2 separate regions of the Homo sapiens genome follow, and region 2 is linked to region 1. Evidence: fine-mapped expression QTL. A gene starts in region 1. The other region holds a variant in brackets. All regions are shown on one strand. Distances are from middle to middle. Region 1 holds the start of UROS (uroporphyrinogen III synthase). Region 2 overlaps UROS (uroporphyrinogen III synthase).

Evidence for each region. PIP is the estimated chance that this variant, and not a neighbour inherited with it, causes the effect.
Region 2: its variant is fine-mapped to the expression of UROS in whole blood (TOPMed, PIP 0.97).

The regions. Positions count from the first base shown.
Region 1 is chr10:125,818,287-125,827,119 of GRCh38, reverse strand. UROS (uroporphyrinogen III synthase) reads left to right here and starts at 3,862. Exons shown (of 10, transcript NM_000375.3): 1 at 3,862-4,091. BCCIP (BRCA2 and CDKN1A interacting protein) reads right to left here and starts at 3,574. Exons shown (of 7, transcript NM_078468.3): 1 at 3,398-3,574; 2 at 455-529. The coding sequence starts at 3,562. MIR4484 (microRNA 4484) reads right to left here and starts at 7,380; the gene lies at 7,298-7,380. RefSeq lists silencers at 2,810-3,029, 3,786-4,215 and enhancers at 3,506-3,705, 3,249-3,934.
Region 2 is chr10:125,792,207-125,800,874 of GRCh38, reverse strand. UROS (uroporphyrinogen III synthase) reads left to right here. Exons shown (of 10, transcript NM_000375.3): 7 at 2,730-2,810; 8 at 4,687-4,772; 9 at 5,897-5,995. Among named protein-coding and RNA genes, the nearest start is that of MMP21, 21 kb to the right of the region's middle. The variant G/A (reference allele first, on the strand shown) is at 4,108.

The DNA of each region.
Region 1 (8,833 bases):
TAATTAGCAGATGAAAGGAAATAATTCTTCCTTCCAGGCAAGGTGGAGAGGATAGAAATGGAAATTCTAAAAAGATGAACTTGGGAGAGCCTGTATTGAATGACCTGAATTTTCTTTTTTTTTAGAGACAGAGGCTCACTCTGTTGCCCAGACTGGAGCTCAATGGCACATTCATAGCTGCAGCCTTGAGCTCTTAGACTCAAGTAATCCTCCAGCCTCAGCCTCCTGAGGAGTTAGGACTAACGGTGTGTGCTACCACAGTTGGCTAATTTTTAATTTTTTTGTAGAGACAGGTTCTCATTATGTTGCCCAGGCTGGTCTCAAACTCCTGGGCTCAAGCAATCCTCTCACCTCGGCCTTCCAAAATGCTGAGATTATAGGCATGAACCACTGCACCCGGCCCCTGATTTTTCTTAGAAGAGGAAATTTATGCATAATAAATAAAAGACAATACCTGCTGCAGTAATTTCTTAATTCCGTCATAATCATTATCTGATAGGGAATAAGCTTCAAATTCAATATTCACTTCCTGTAAATAACACACAAAATAGTTGTTACCAGAAAAACTACAAACATCTAGACTTTAAAACAGGCAAACATTGCCAAGATTGCCATCTGTGAAGAATACAAAGCACCTTCACACTATTTCTTCAGGTGACACAAAAGCCTGAGAAAACAAAACACTCAGAGTAACCTAGTTTAAATGTTGAGAAAGTCCAGTTCAAATAAACCAGACACGGCAGCCACAAAGGATAAATTATTTTCCTGATTACAAGGGTGGGCAAAAATCAAAATCACTTCAAAAGTCCCTGGAATTGCCTAGAGCTTGACTTAGCCCATGGATTTGAGGTTACACTACATTTGCTTAGCAAATATTTATTAAGTATCAATCCAGGTACCAAGCACTGTGCCAGGCACTCAAGATGAAAAGGTTAGTAAGGCAGACACAAATGATCCTGCTCTCGTGCAGCTTACGATTTAGGAAGGAATATAGGCATTAAGGAAATATTCATAGAAATAAATGTAAGTGCTATAAAACAAAGGTACACAATGTTGTAACAACTTAAAAAATAAGAAGTCAGTCAGGAAAGCCTTCCTTGAAGTGACATTTGAGCAAGAAACCGAGAAACAGCAAAGAGAGTTCCTGGTACAGGGAACAGCACAAACTAAGGCCCTAAGGCAGAAGGAAATACAATGAGTACAAGGGACTAGAAGAATGAATGTGTAGCTGGGCTCCCTGATCTCTATCTGCAAGACAACAGAATCTAGAAGATGGAACTAAAATGCCAAAAACAAAACCTAGTTGCTTTTAAACACTAACAAGATTAGTCCTTGAGGACCCTAAATCAGACCTTGATAAGTGACACAATGAACCTGGGGCTCTGATGAAATAATATATTTAAAGGCACTTCAGGTTTTAACGGTTTCAGAATTTAGGTCTTAGCTGAAGAACATCGCAGAGGAAATCAGACCTCCTTTTACCTTGCCACCCTGACTATGTATATATTTAAGTCTTCCTTAATTGTAAAATTGCAAGGCCCTGGAATTGCTTAGAGCAATTCCAGCTCCAATTTGAACTCTTTAAGTCCAGCTTTGCAGACTTCAAATGCTAACTTAGCCAGATTATGTGAGCAGCAAAACACAAGGGGTCGGGTGGGAGTGTTCCAAACAGGATCAAACTAAACCAAATAACAAACTGTCATTATTCAGGACTTAAACTTATTCCTTAGATATAAATACATTCTGTAAATAATGCTCATCTAGTGTTTTTTTCTTTGTCTAGACAGACATCTCGGACCTCTGTCCCAGACTATTATGGCACCACCAGGGAAATGGGCGGCAAATGGATTATCTGTCCAGCACCCTTTTCCTGGGTATGGGCTCATCTCCACATGGCTTCAGCAGGAACAGTCACGTTTGTAGAAAAGAGCCCTGTCCCTCATTCCCAGGTGATTTAGAATTAAGACTGTGGTGGTGTGATAGATTTCCCATGTTAACACAAGCAGCATTGATTTCTATAACCCAAAAGTAATAAAAGAGCCAGTCAAAGTTCTAAGTGAAAAATGGTGAGATGGCATTCAAGGCATAGAGCCAAAGTAAAATTTGTAAGGGAAGGAAGATTGATCACATACCCACACCATGGTGTCACCTCTAATCCTGCATCCATGCTTCTCTCCATGCTCCCCTCCATGCTCATCATGACTCATGATTACCTCTCTGATTTTATTTCCTATCACTCTCTCTTCCTTATTCTGATCCAGCCATCTAGGCTGCCTTTCCGTCCCTCAATTGTGAAGACTCTTGATTTTCTTGTAAATGAACTAGAAAGCCAATGCAGCAATCTAAGCAGAGGCCTGAGATCAGACCTATAAGATCTCTCTGACTGTAAGTGGAGTATAGACTGATTGTAGGGGAACAAAAATGGAGAAAAGAACGCCGGTTAAAAGCTGTTACATTAAATAGTAGTCCAGGCAAGAGATGATAGAGGTGTGGACTACGATGGTCTCAGAATTAGTGCTGAGAAATGTCTGGATAACAGGATTTACTGATGGGCTGGATATAGGATGAGGAAAGGGAGGAATTAAAGTTAAGCCCCAGGTTTTGGGTTAGAGCAGCTGGTGACTTTAGGGGCCATTTATAGAAATGGTGACGATTAAGAGAGGGGCATGAATTATTATACAAATTCTGCTTTGGACAAGTTAAGGCTGAGGTATCTATTTAAACATTCAGTAGGCTGAAGGATCATTCAGTCCTAATTGTTTACTAAACAAATAATAAGTACCTATATTGCCAGGCACTACGGTAGGACCTAGTCTGAAGAAAGGAACACAGTTCTATGAGACTATGAAACCAAAGATTTACCCACGACTTGGTCAGCTGCCCCAGGAGCCAGAAAATACAGCCTAGCTGAGATCTGAAGAAGGAAGGGAAAACTGCAGGATAAAGAAGAGCATTTGAAAAGGCTTCTACGGTAGAACGCGGCAAGAGCCTTCAAGAAACTGAGGGCCCAAGTGAGTGCCGCCCGCAGAGTGAAGAGGAGGACAGCTGCTGCCCCGAGGGGAGAGGGCCCCCTCTGCGAGCCCGGGGTGGCCGATTCAGGATCTGAGGCTTCAGCCTGAGAACTAAAGAGGACGAGAAGAACACACCTGTTGTGGCGGGCTTTTTCGGGGAGGACGCGGGTTGGGAGATTAACTGGACCGGACTAGACCTTTAAAAAATAACTACTATGGCTGCAGTGTGTTAAAGACCGAGGAGAAACCTGAGAAAGAACTTATCTCCAGTTTCTCCTCACAGACCCTCAGGGTCAGGGAAGACCCTACACTATTTTTACACAGCCTGGGCTTGCCAAAAAGTTTTTCTCAGGTATAAACCAACTAGGGGAGCGTGTCCTTCTCACCTCGTCAATGACCTCGTCCTCTTCATCCTTTTCCTTGTCACTGTCATCATCGTCTTCATCCTCATTTTCGACTTCTTTTTCCTCTTCCTCGTCGCGCTGGACTGGGGGATCCGGCGGCTGCGGAACCCCACTTTCCACGGCACGCCGCTTAGACCTGGACGCCATGTTGCCGCTCACACTGCGCCTGCGCAGCTTCCCCTTGCCTGACCTTCCGGACCAGCCCATAGTAGCCAAGGGGGTGAGGAACTACGAAGAAGCTCGGCGCTGAGTGCACGTCAACCCCAATGCCCCTGCTGGATTCCGCAGCCATGACCCCTTACAGTCACGTCCAGCTTGCGGTCCCATCTTGCTTTTTTCTTCCGCTTTCCACCCTCCATCACTCCTCCCAAAGCTTCCCCTCCCCTTCCCGTAGTGGTTCAACCCATCTAACCTCTGGCCTCATTCCGTGGCCTGGATGGCGGTGCGCATGCGCGAGCGCCTAGCTGCGCGCAGCCACCCACGCGACCCCAGTCTGAGGTGCGGGGTCCTGGGGCCCGGCGCGGGTGGCCGCCGCGGCCCCTCGGGCTGCGTGGGGAGGGGGCTTCCGCCCCTGTTGTCATTGCTCCTGCAGCCTTTTCGCTGGGACTGCGCGACACCGCCCCCCGACCGGGTGCCCGCTGTGTGCCAGGCCGGGTGCTGGGCACGGTCCCGCGAGGTAGGTGTCGCCGCCCGCTGTACCGGTACGGACGCCGAAGCCCGCGGGCGTGCAGGGGCCCGGCCCCGGGCGGTGTGTGACACAGTGGGGCCAGGGCCCCGAGGCTTCCGCGGACCTGGGCCTGCCCAGGCGGGGATGTCCGCTGCCGCTACCGCTGCGCCGGTGACGGAAGGCGCCTGCCCAGCCTACCCTCGCCGAGCTTCTGGAGCGCATTTCTTGACCTAAAAGTTTTTTTAAAGCCGGCACCGCAGTTAAAAATGCTTCGGCGGGGGGCCGGGCCCGGTGTCTCGCGCCTGTAATCCCAGCACTTAGGGAGGTCAAAGCGGGTGGATCACCAGAGGTCAGGAGTTCGAGACCAGCCTGGCCAACATGGCAAAACCTCATCTCTGCTAAAAGTACAAAAATTAGCCGGGCGTGGTGGCGGACACCTGTAATCCCAGCACTTTGGGAGGCCGAGATGGGTGGATCACTTGAGGTCAGGAGTTCGAGACCAGCCTGCCCAACATGGCGAAATCCCATCTCTACTAAAAATACAAAAACTAGCCAGGTGTGGTGGTGCGCGCCTGTAGTCCCAGCTACTCAGGAGGCTAAGGCAGGAGAATCGCATGCCCCCAGGAGACGGAGGTTGCAGTGAGCCGAGATCGCGCCACCGCACTCCACACTCCAGCCTGGGCGACAGAGGTAGACCCTATCTAAAAAAAAAAAAAAATGCTTCGGGGCCAGTGGGGTAGTCTAGGTTAAAGACCCGAGCCTATTTGGAGAGAAGAGTGGAGGGGACTGCGGCCAACTGCAGAGCGAGCGCCAGCCCCTGTGGCAGGTGGGGATGCAGCCTGGGGCAGCCAGGTCTTCCCATTGCGAGAGAAACAGGGTTCATCAGCTTTCTAGGAATAAGATCTGCGGTTCTCAATTGATTTTTCTCTGTAAAATGAGGGGGGTGGGTTGGATATGTTTGATTCTAGGAATGGTGTGAGCTGCGCTAATAGGCTGCTTCTGTTTAAGCAGGGTAACATCTGATAAATCAGTGATCCTTCATCAGTACGAGATGGCGTGCCCTAAAGGTCCCCAGGAGCCCAGATTGCCCATAATCGTGTTCTGTGATTTCGGTCTTTCCTGGGAGTCTCTTGTCTACCCAGCCATGTCATGGATATTAAAGTAATACTTACACATCAGCGCTCCACATCTGATGGGGCAGCTTGAAATGGCCTCTTTGGGTCGCACAACTGCAAAAACATGTTCCTGTAATGGAGAAGAGAGGAAGCTGTCAAAAAAGACCCATCAAAAGGCTAAGATTAGAAAAAAGACTCAGAAAGACCATGTGAACATATCAACAGAGTTGCACTGAGATACCATAGCCAATTTTTTTTCCTGTTTCTTTATACTTTTTTTATGGTGGTAAAAGATACATAACATACATTTTACCATCTTAACTATTTTTAAAGATACAGTTCAGTGGCATGAAGTGCATTCACATTGTGCAACCATCACCACCACTATCCATTGGCAGAACTCTTTTCATCTAGCAAAATTGAAACTGTAGTTAAACAACTCCCTTATTTTCCCTCCATGACCTTTCTACTTTCCATCTTTATTAATTTGACTATTCTAGAAACCTCATGTAAGTGGAGTAACACAATATTCTTCCTTTTGTGACTATTTCATTCAGCATGATGTCTTCAAAGTTTATCCCATGCTGTAGCATGCATTAGGATTTCCTTCCTTGTTAAGGCTGAATAATACTCCATTGCATGTATAGACCACATTTTGTTTATCTACTTATCTGTCGGTAAACATTTTGGTTACTTCTACATTTTAGCTGTTGTAAATAATGTTGCTATGAACATGAGTATCAAATATCTGTTCGAGTCCCTGCTTTCAATTCTTTGGGGTATATATGTAGCAGGGGAATTGCTAGATCATATGGTAATTCTATGTTTATTTTTTTGAGGAACTATACTTTTTTGTAGTTTGCAAATCTTTCACAGTAAACAGGATCACTTTTGTAAGACAAGTAGGGGAAAAAGCCTTACTTTATGCCCTCAGATTAGTTCCCAGTGTTGAGCTCATGGTCAAAGTGTGAATTAGAATAGTGAATGTGAAAGTAAATACAGTACTGACCCTAGGGAACTGAACTCAGCAGGTAGTAGATTGCTTACCACTCGTTCAGTGTTCATCTTTAGCTCAGAATTTATCTTAATGAGGCAGAGGGATGGTAGCAAGTGGTTAGGAGACTGAGCATGGGCTTCAGACCAGGATCCAAATTCCATCTCTCCCACTTACTGTGCTGTGTGACCTGGGACAAGTTACTCAAACCTCCCAGGGACTTGGTTTCACCTCCTGCAAATAAGGCTAACACCACCTACCTTGCAGGTTTAAGTGAGGATTGCAGTCTTGCATGTAAAATGCTTAGCCCAGTGTGATAGTTACTTTTACATGTCATCTTGACTGGATCACGGATGCCCAGATATCTGGTTAAACATTATTTCTTGGTGTGTCTGTGAAGTTGTTTTCAGAAAAGATGAGCATTTGAATGGATAGACTGAGTAAAGTGGATTGCCCTCCCCAAAGTAGGTGGGCAGCATCCAGTCTGTTGAGGGCCTAAATAGAACAAAAAGCCAAAGAAGGAAGAATGTGTCCTGTCTCCTCCTGCATGCTTGATCTGGGATATCTTCTGCCCTTGGTGCTCCTGGTGCTGAGGCCTTCACACTCAGGCTGGAACCTACACCCTTGGCTCTCAGGCCTTCAGGCTACAACACCAGCCTTCCTGCTAACAAGTCTCCAGCTTGCAGACAGCAGATCATGGGACTTCTCAGCCTCCATAACTGCATGAGCTAATACCTTATAACAAATCCCTTTCTAGATGTAAATATATGCCATTGGTTCTGTTTCTCTGAAGAACTCTAATACACCCAGTAATTAACATGAGTAAATGCTCAGTAAAAGGGTGACTGTTGTTATTGCTGATACCCAGAACACCATGACATAGAAGGTACGGGTTTGAGGTTTGGTTCTTTCTTACCAGTAAGGTGCCCTTATTCCAGTCATTTTTTTTTTCTTTTCTTTTTCATCAATGATTGATGAACATAAGTATGAGGGTAAAATGGCAGAGCAAGCATTAGACTGTAAATCTAGAGACAGGTTGAGCCCTCTTTTTACCAGTGCCGAGGTGAGTTTCATGTTGGAAGCTTCAGGAGCAGCTTCATTTCTGCTGGGGCTTCTCCCGCCTTTTTCCCCCTCAATGGGAAATAACAGGTTTCGTTATTTTCATTGGAAAAAAAGGCAGAGGAAACCCCAGACACTGCACGGTTTTTAGGCCCTAGCCTCACCAGTCTCAAGCCTCCTATCAAGGAGGGCCATATAGTGCCTCTGATCTGCTTGATGCAGACCCTAGGGTCCTTCCCACTCCCATGAGCCACCCACCAGAGTGAGCTAAGAAATCAACTGGCAGAGAGCAGAGTCACGTATGGCCAAGAGGAATTGTTCTGGGGGTTGTTTAGTAAGCAGGAGAGAGGGAGGAGAAGAAAAACTGCACAGGGATCAGATGCCTCCAGCAGAAGAAAGCGAGGCATAGAGATCCCTTACCATCTGAGTCACGTGGCACCAAATATGTTACCAGTGGCAAATCAGTAGACACCTGCAGCAACCTCAATCTTGTCTCCTCAGAAGAAAATTCAACTGGGGGCATAAGGCAGAAAAAGTGACCGAGGCAAGCTTCAGAGCAGGAGTGGAAGTTTATTTTAAAAAACTTTAGGCCGGGTGCAGTGGCTCACACCTGTAATCTCAACACTTTGGGAAGCCAAGGCAGCCGGATCACGAGGTTAAGAGATGGAGACCATCCTGGCCAACATGCTGAAACCCCATCTCTACTAAAATACAAAAATTAGCTGGGCATGGTGGCGCATGCCTGTAGTCCCAGCTACTCAGGAGGCTGAGGCAGGAGAATCGCTTGAACCCGGGAGGCGGAGGTTGCAGTGAGTTGAGATTGCACCACTGCACTCCAGCCTGGGCGACAGAGCAGGACTGCATCTCAAAAAACAACAACAAAAAACTTTAGAACAGGAAAGAAAGTAGAGTATGCTTGGGAGAGACCTAAGCAGGCAACTTGAAGGACAAGTGCTCCATTTTACTTTAAGGAAAATTAATCATTCTTTCTGTTTCAAAGATGCTGGGTAAAATTGAAATTGTTGTTTTCCCACAAGGTGAGCAAATAATGAGCATCTACTACAGGAAAGAAAGTCCATCAAAAAAGCCAACAATGGAGAGGCTCACAGCCCCTTTCCAATGTACAGGAATCTGAAACTGAGACTGAGGCAAGAGCAGCCTAGACCAGAACCCAGACACTGGCCCTCCTGTGCAAACACCCTCTACTCCACCAAGCCTCTTCCTAAAGCCCAAGGTGGCGACATGTTAACCTATCTGTGCACGCTTCTCAATTGATTTCTTTCCCAATCAGCCTGATAATATGTGACTCTAGCACAGCAAAGAATCATCAACAACAGAACCTTTTAATTTTATATTATTATTATTATTATTATTATTTAGACAAGATCCTTCTCTGTCACCCAGGCTGGAGTGCAGTGGCACGATTATAGCCCACAGCAACCTTGAACTCCTGGGCTCAAGTGATTCTCCCACCTCAGCCTCCTGCGTAGTTAGGACTACAGGGATGCGCCACTATGCCCGGCTCCTTGTTAACAACTTTTAAAATTTTTGTAGAAATGGGGTCTCGCTATGTTGTCCAGGCT
Region 2 (8,668 bases), 26 kb after region 1:
CCCTCAGCTGGGCGCAGTGGCTCACTCCTGTAATCCCAGCACTTTGGGAGGCCGAGGCAGGTGGATCACCTGAAGTCAGGAGTTTGAGACCAGGTCAGGAGTTCTGGCCAACATGGTGAAACCCCATCTCTACTAAAAATACAAAAATTACCTGGGCTTGGTGGCCGCGTCTGTAATCCCAGCTACTCAGGAGGCTGAGGCAGGAGAATTGCATGAGCCCAGGAGGCAGAGGTTGTAGTGAGCTGAGATTGCACCACTGCACTCCAGCCTGGGTGAAAGAGTGAGACTCCGTCACAAAAAAAAAAAAAAGAAAGAAAGAAAGAAAAGCTCTCAACAAAGAGAGGGATTCTCCAAGCAGGTTTCTCCCTCATTATTGAATACCAGGGGTACCACACATGAGCTGATGAGGCCAGGCTCCTCCCCTGCGTAAGGTGCGAATCCTAGTGACTCCGCCCCGTTCCCCCAGCACGCACACGAGGATGCCCAGGTAAACCATAGGTAGTATCGGAAAAGGCAACATTTGATTGGTTAAAAGGCATTATTCGGAAAGAATCAATTGGGAAAGGGCAGACAAACGGGCAGACGTTCTGCCCCTGGGTCGCTGGTTTCATCTGGGACCAGCAATCTGGTCTTTCAGACTTCAGGCTGTTCTGGGCTTGAAGGTGAGGTCTCACCGGGGACCCTTCCCTATCTGCCTAGGCATTTGTCTGCCTCCTGCTTGTATCATCATTTTCTTAATTGCCTGCAGTGACTTTATCAAGCCCCCTCCTGAGCTGCGTAATAATAATACTGTGTTAGGATTTTCAGTGTTATTACTCATCATCAGCCCGGACAGCCCAGAATTCCAGGCCTTCTTCCTGTTAAACGAACGGAGAGCAGAGCCTTTGAGCTCCACAGTTCACTATCTCTGTGTCAGCCTTAACCATCCCATTGGCCTGTTGGGGCTGAAGATAAATCCCCAGGCATTAAGCATATTCCAAAAGGGAATAACTCCTTTGTCTTTGGCTTTTTGAAGTGGGCTAGTTTTCAGGACATGTAGTTGTAGATCTCTCCTCACCAGCAAAGGAGGACTCAGCCAGGACATTTTCAATTTTCTCCTTTCTGCTGACAGGGTGGTGCCTTTTCAGTGAAGTCAGCTGAGCTGGTTGGACATTTGTGGGCCCTGTGTGCCTGCAGAGCCAAGCTCTCTGCAAGGCACAGGTGGTGGAGAGATAGAGACAAGCAGCTGCCCTCAGGGAGCCGCGTACCCCTTCGGCCCAGCCTTGTGAGTCAGAGATAAGAATGAGCAGCTCAGGACTCCACTGGACCCTCACAAGAGGTGCTGCCAAGGGAAGATTCCTGACTCTTTCCAAGGCCCCTCGCACACCTGTGGGGCTGGGCTTGCTGAAAAACTGGACTGTAGTTCTCTTACTGGATCCCCAGGAAGAGCTTTGGCCCCTAACATCTTCCACCCTGCATTCCCCAACACACACATAGACACACAGAAACGGGGAAGAAAATTGCCTCTGAACATGGCTTTGAAAATATGTCTCTAGGGATGCAGAGCATGAAAACATTTCCTCGCACTGGAAGAGAGAAATCAGCAGGCATCTATTAACGAATTTAACAATCTCCCAATTCATTATTTTATTTTATGTTGGTACAGATATTTACAGAGCAGTTTAAATAAAGAAAACATTCACCAGTATGTAGCCTTTATACACTTGAAATTAAGTGGCCTGCAGTTATTCCTGTTGTTTGGCTGCTGCTTGCTAGAGGTGGTACTGGATGGAAAGGGGTTGTTTTGCTCCTTCCTCTCGTTGTAGTCACCAGAGAAGATGTGATCAGAGAGATCATAAGGATGTGAGAAAATATACAATGTGTATGAATAACGCCCATTAAAATTTCTTATGTCTTACGGATGGATGTGGGGGGTAATGGCTGGTTCTACTAAAATGCTGTGTTTTCACATTTGGGGAAGATTCTGGCATTTGACAACTTATCAGCTTTTTTGGACAGTATTGTTGCAAATTGGCATTCAAATCCTATGCTGTCCTCACTATTCTGCAAAGAGTTAAGGGCTGAAAATGCCCTTAAGTCTTCCCAGAGTGGAGATGCTGGGAGCAGAGGTTGTGGTGAAAGGAGAGGCAGGCCGTTCTTAGCAGGCTTCTCTCTCTAAGGCCTGTGCATTCGCCTTTTGGCACTTGGCCTAGTGGCTGTTGGTGTGGCTAGAAGAGGAGTGGGCAGTGAGCTTGTCTTTGTTGGGGGTGGCTGCAGAGCCACTCCTGGCTGCCGGTTACCGGCTGCCTCCTGAGCATGAGCCCTGGCTCATCTGGAGCCTCTTTAAAGGTAGAAAATGTTTGCCCCAGTGCCAGTCAGCACCAGGCCTGATCTTCACCTTCCTGACTTAGTTAAGGTGCAAAGTCTGCCTTCTAAATAGTGACTGCAGGCTAGGGAGTCACTTCAGGATCAGAAGGAGTTAAAAGAATGTGGCTAACTTGTTTGTGTGGATGTTCATTTTCTGAGCACCTCCACACACATTACCTCTTATGATCTTCATATAACAACCCTTCAAGTTCGGCAAGGTAGCAGGTGCTCTTCCTGTTTACAGATGCTGAAACTGAGTCCTAGAAGCAGAGCCAGGCCTGGAGCCCAGGGCTGCTTCCCCCTTCCCAAAGCTGCCCCTCCCCATTCCCCTGTGCACAGGCACTGGCCCTGAGTTTTCACAAAGCCTGGTTATTTATTCACAGGGGAGTCCTCAGCACTGCCTCTTCTATTTCCCTGTGGAAACCTCAAAAGAGAAATCCTGCCAAAAGCGCTCAAGGACAAAGGCGAGTAGAATGCTTTGACTGCATCCCTTACCACTTTGGGATCCACCAGGAGCCTTTGCAGTGATAGAAGTGGGTGGCCCTGCAGAGAGCACACAAGGGAGAGCAGGGCTGGGTTGGATAAGCCAGGCCAGGAGACACAGAGACCATGCTCATGGGAAGAGTGGACGTGCAGTCTGCACTTTCCTTTCTTTGGATCCACTCTTCCCAGCTTGTTAGCTCAAGCTAGGAGCACACAGTGTGTCTCCAGTCCTTCACCAAGAGGACAGGAGATCGAGATGTGGAGGTGGCCCCTGGGCAGATAACTGAGGTGACAAACCATAGAATTGGTTCCACATGTAGAAGAAAGTCTACAAATGTAGCCGATCTTATAATAGCATGCAGCACCCTCCAGCCGAGCCACACAAGCTCCACCTGCCCCTCCAGCTCCACCTGCCGTGGCTCCCAAGACTGTCAGCACCTAGAAACCAGTTCTTGCCTCTGAAGCATGCTGCCGTCCTCGATGCAGATGTCTTAGCTGTCACCTGCGCACCTTTTGCTGTCACATAGTTAGTCTGGGAGCAAAGTCTATCAGTGGTTTGGAGTACCAGCTTTCGGATGAGATAAAAACAGATTTGAATTCTCCCTCTTGCTGTTTATTAGCTATGTGAATGAAGGTAAGTGATGTAATCTCTCTGTGCATCAGTATCCTTATCTGTGAAATATGGTTATCTGTACATAACCATGGTACCTGCCTCATAGAGGTGTTCAGAGATCATGTAGCATGACACCTTGTTCTCCAAAGGCAAGCTCTCCATGGAACTATGACTGTTACTGTCTCTCCCAGGGTTTTGAAGCTCTAATAGTCCACATGAGCAGTGTGACCCAGGATGACCTTAGACCTTGTAACTTTCCCCCCGTATTAAAATGGAGCTAGATCGTATCCCTTCTACCCATATCATCTGTCTTCTAAAGCTACCAGGAATAAAGGCAGAGGACATTAGGTAATAAGATCAGCAAAATCATTAGCTTTTCGGGAACAAGAAAATACCAGGATAAAATAAGAGAAAGCTTGGTCTCAGTTACCCTTAAAGAAATAATATATAAATCAGAGGTTTGATACTTCAGTTTATTTCTTTAGTTTTCAGGGATATGAAATGGCAATAGGTTGCTGTTTTATGCTGAAGTTATCATTTCTTCTGAGAGAGTTTCCCATTTTATTTTCAGAAGCCTGAGTTTTCACTACTTTTCACCTACCATCTGGCTGCCCCTCATAAGTCAATATCTGACTGAAATTGCGTGAGTCCCTTCAGTGCCTAGC[G/A]CCTCATCACCAGCCCTGAAAACCCCTGGGAATATTCAGAGTCGCTGAATGGCACAGGGAGGAATGTGGGAAAGTCCACGGCTTAATCAGTTCTTGTACAAGTGGACACACTGAGGCCCAGAGAGGGGACGCGTGGCCATGTGGAGGCACAGCTGGAGTGCAGCCGGGGATCTGGACTCCAGGCCTCTCCCAAGAGCTGCCCTTCCTACACTTGCTGGTGTCATGCAACCAGTCTGTGTGGGATCCATGGAGTGACTAGGGACGGCCTTGTGTGGACAAACCTACATAAGCCTGGGAACAAAAGGCATTCTGGGTACAAATGAAGGCTTTGGTTTCTGGGCCTTTGTTCTTTTTCTGCCGTCTCAGCCTCCTCTTCCACCGGACCACTCCACAGCGTTTAGCAGGCTGCAGAGGACTGTTCAAGGCCTCTCTGCTGAGTCTGGCCTCTCAGCTTCCAAGCAGCTCGTTCCAGGAGGGTGGTGCTGTATTGGGAGGTTTCACCAACTGTGCTGTGAAGTGGTGGAGGCCCCATTGTGTGCCCAGTGCGGTAAAGTCTTTCCTGCTTTTGATTGTGCCCAGGGATTGCCATGGAAAGCATAACTGTGTATCAGACAGTTGCACACCCAGGAATCCAAGGGAACCTGAACAGCTACTATTCCCAGCAGGTACGTGGCGTTTGGGGGCGGTTCTGGCAGGGTGGGTGCCCAGGTGGGGAAGCAGAGGGTGAAGGGCACGAGCTGATAGATGTTGGTTCTATATGTGGTTTCACTGTCCCCAGCTGTCACCTGCATGCCTTTTCCTGTCACATAGTTGGTCTGGGATTCTAGAATTAGGAATGGAAACAATTTTGTGGTTGTTTCATGAAATGTCTATTGCAAGCTGGTTTGAAATCAGTGATTTCGGTAAGAGGTGCTTGTAGTAGGTGGTCTATGAAATCTCCCTCTTTGGAGAGATTAATGTGGTGACTTTGAGGAAGTGGTAAGTTTTTATAGGGGTTAAAGGAGATAATTTACGCAAAGCTTTTTGTACAGCATCGAAGATACATACAACCCTGAGGTAAATAGTGGCCTTGATGTTATCATTGCTATTCATCATACGGGGATGCTGGTGGAGCTGGAGGGGCAGACACTGGAGAGGGAGGCTGAGCCCATAGTGGGAAGAGCTGACAGTGGCCACCAAGGAGTCTGGATTGAATTTGGGAGTCCGTGGGGACTGTTGGAGGACTCAGGCAGGAGAATGGATAGCTCTTGCTTGAGTTCCTTGATGTCTTCAGCATTTATATGCAGTAAAACACCTCCCTTTCCTCTCCCAGGGCAAGCTTCTGAATGTCTTGCCTGGTATTGGGAGGGCCTGATAGGACAAACCAAATGCAAAAAGGCCAGGCAGGCTTGTCTGCTTGCTCTGCTTCCAGAGGGAGGGAGCATTGACAGGGAGCCAGCACTGCCTCACACCACTGCCTCATGTGATCAGTGCCGTATGACCACAGGAGCTAGAGGCATTGTCTAGGCTGCTGGGCACATGAGCTCCGGGATGCCCATGTCCTCTGGCCAGGCAGACACAGACCTGGGGCAGCACCAGCTTTCTGATGGCAGCCTGCTCTTTCCAACAGTTCCCTACCAGAATCCTGCCTCACTGGAGCAGAGGATGCCAGCATCAGCCGGGAACCACTCCTGTGCTAAAACCGCCTTGGTGGCCTGTGGCTTGAGGTCTTGATGCGGATGAAGCCGGAGGAATGTTGTCTCTCCTCAGTCTCATGGCAAGGACTGATCTTGTTTTCTGTTCCCCACAGGGGGTTCCAGCCAGCATCACATTTTTTAGTCCCTCTGGCCTCACATACAGTCTCAAGCACATTCAGGAGTTATCTGGTGACAATATCGATCAAATTAAGGTAAGTTATTCAATGAGCTTTTGGTCTTTTTCAGATTCTTTTTTTTTTTTTTAATCTTTATGAATTATCCTAGGGCTTCAATGTCAAGTGAGACACCCCTGGCCTAGCAGGTGCCTTAGAATTGGAAGGGCAGCTCTACCTCCTGCTGGGCTGTTGCACAGATTGCTCACCTTCTCCCAGCCCGTTTCCTCACTTGCAGCATGGGGATAATTGTCTCTCTGTGGCTTTCATAGACATGTGTATGGTCTTCCCTGCTTAGGATGAGTCTCAGGATTACATGAGGGAATTTGAGTAAAGTCCTGAATTAGCTCAGGGCTTGGTACAGGTGTTAACATCCTTTCCTTCCTTTCCCCCATCTTATGTTTGCCATTATTGTCTATTCTAAAAGCAGTCACCTTTTTCATATCTTTTAAAGGGTTTACATTCTCACTTACTAGGGACTGTATTTATTATGAGTCTACAAATAACCACAACTCTTGTGTCTGTAATAGAAACACCCTTGAACTGGCTCCAGAGGGACTGAGGAGAGGGTGCAGGATGTGACCCAGAGCCCAAGGACAGACACTGCCACTCACTGCAGTCAGGAAGAGCAAAAGGCTTCACCTGCCTTCTCACAGGTGCATCTCATGTGGGGAGTATGCACCGCTCTCCCAGTTTTAAAGATGGAGCACGGGGCTCAGAGACATCATATGGCCTGTCTGTAGGTCACACTGCTGAGAAGGAAGAGCTGCAGTTGAACCTGGGAAGACTGATTCCACATTGTCAGCCATGGTGATGCCTTGCCATGGTCTCAGGAGCTGCTGAGCAGTTGATGCACTTCTGGGCAGTAACTGATACAATTCTCACACCAGTCCAGTGGTGGGTATCCAGAAAAAGAGGTCAGTGTTCCTCATTACAGGTGAGGACACTGAGGGCTAGAGAGGTGAAACAACTTGCCAAAGTCATGTTTTGAGTTCCTAGAAGGCCCAGGACTCACACAGGTCACCGAGGAAGAAAAACAATATCTGAATCTTGTGGTTAGAAAGATTAGAGAGAGGCCGGGCGCTGTGGCTCCCACCTGGAATCCCAGCACTTTGGGAGGCCTCAGGCGGATCACCTGAGGTCAGGTGTTCCAGACCAGCCTGTCCAATATGATGAAAACCCCGTCTTTACTAAAAATATAAAAATTAGCTGGGCATGGTGGCATGCGCCTATAATCCCAGCTACATGGGAGGCTGAGACAGGAGAATCGCTTGAACCCTGGAGACTGAGGTTGCAGTGAGCCGAGATCGCGCCACGGCACTCCAGCCTGGGTGACAAGAGTGAAACTCCGTACCTGCCCCATAAAAGAAAAAAAGAAAGAAAAAGAAAAATTAAAGAGATAGGACCCATAAAGTGCTTAGCATGGCAACTGGTCCATATGACCAGCGCTTACGTCATATTGCAGGTCAGGATGGGTCACGGTGCTGGTCCTGCTCTGGTTCTTGTCCCTCTGTGCCCTGCTGCCTCTCCCCTGGGCCTGTAGGAGGAGTCCCCACCTCCACCCCACCCACCCACCCCCAAGTCACACAATGCTGTGAGATGCCTGGTGGTATAAGCCTAACACAGTTTTCCCCAAGCTTCTTAGTGTTTGCCTAGAGGAAGAACAAAAGATTTATACTCTATCTTCTTTCAAAGTGAGCATATTTAAAAGCACAAATGGATACTCAGCATCTGAACCAAGAACTCAGGCCTTTCTGAATAGACTGCTGCCTGCATTGTCCACACCCATGGCAGCTGGGGGCTGAGTGCGTGTTCCTATCCTGTATCTGTCACACCCATTTCTGCAGCCCTCCAGACACTCTGAGGAGCTCTCAGTAGCCCCCTCGCCTCTTACTACAGTGATTGATTACCCTGCCTGCCAGTAGTTAACACCTCTGCCATTGCTGAGGAGGAGAAAGTGACAGAGCTGGCCTTGCTCACAGTGACTATGGACTGCTTGGGGGCCACGAAGGCACTGTGTGTGGGTTGTGAGTTGTCCCTCGACACTGGGACTTGGCGCTGGATAGTGAGGTGCTTTCAAGGTTCACAGAGGACACAGTCCTAGCCCGTGAGTTGGTAGTTAGGCTTTTCTGTCTCAGCTCAGCCTCAGATTTGCTACTGTCCTCCCTCCCCAGGAGTCCCTGTAGGGCCCACTGTTTGTACAGCATTGCACAACATGCAGGCGCACCACAAAAGATCAAAGGGGGTGACTTCCGACCTGAACTTGCTACTTATCCATTGACTTGGGAAGACCACGCACTTGTCTATAAATGCCACAGAGATGTCACTGCAAAGCAGTAGGTAAGCAGATTCGTAATCACCACCACCACACTAATGGCAGCAGCTGAATTTCCTGTGTACAGCAAAATGCCCTTGCAGCCTGTGAGGTGGGTATCTTCACACCTAGTGCTCACTAGCCACAGTGGCAGAGCCAGGCTGTGAACGTGGCTGCTGCCCCCAAAGCCAGGCTGGTGCACTCACGTCCAGTTTGTGCCAGGGATGGAGAAAGAACGTTGATGCTGGGCCCCCTCGCCTGGCCTGGGGAAGACTGCTGCTCTGTGGGGCAGCATCATGTGAGCATTCATTGACACAGGAGTGAAAGGCTCCTGTGAAAAAGCTGCTGTTTCACCAAACTGTTGATACCCCTGCTCTAGGACTACAGTCATGTTTGCC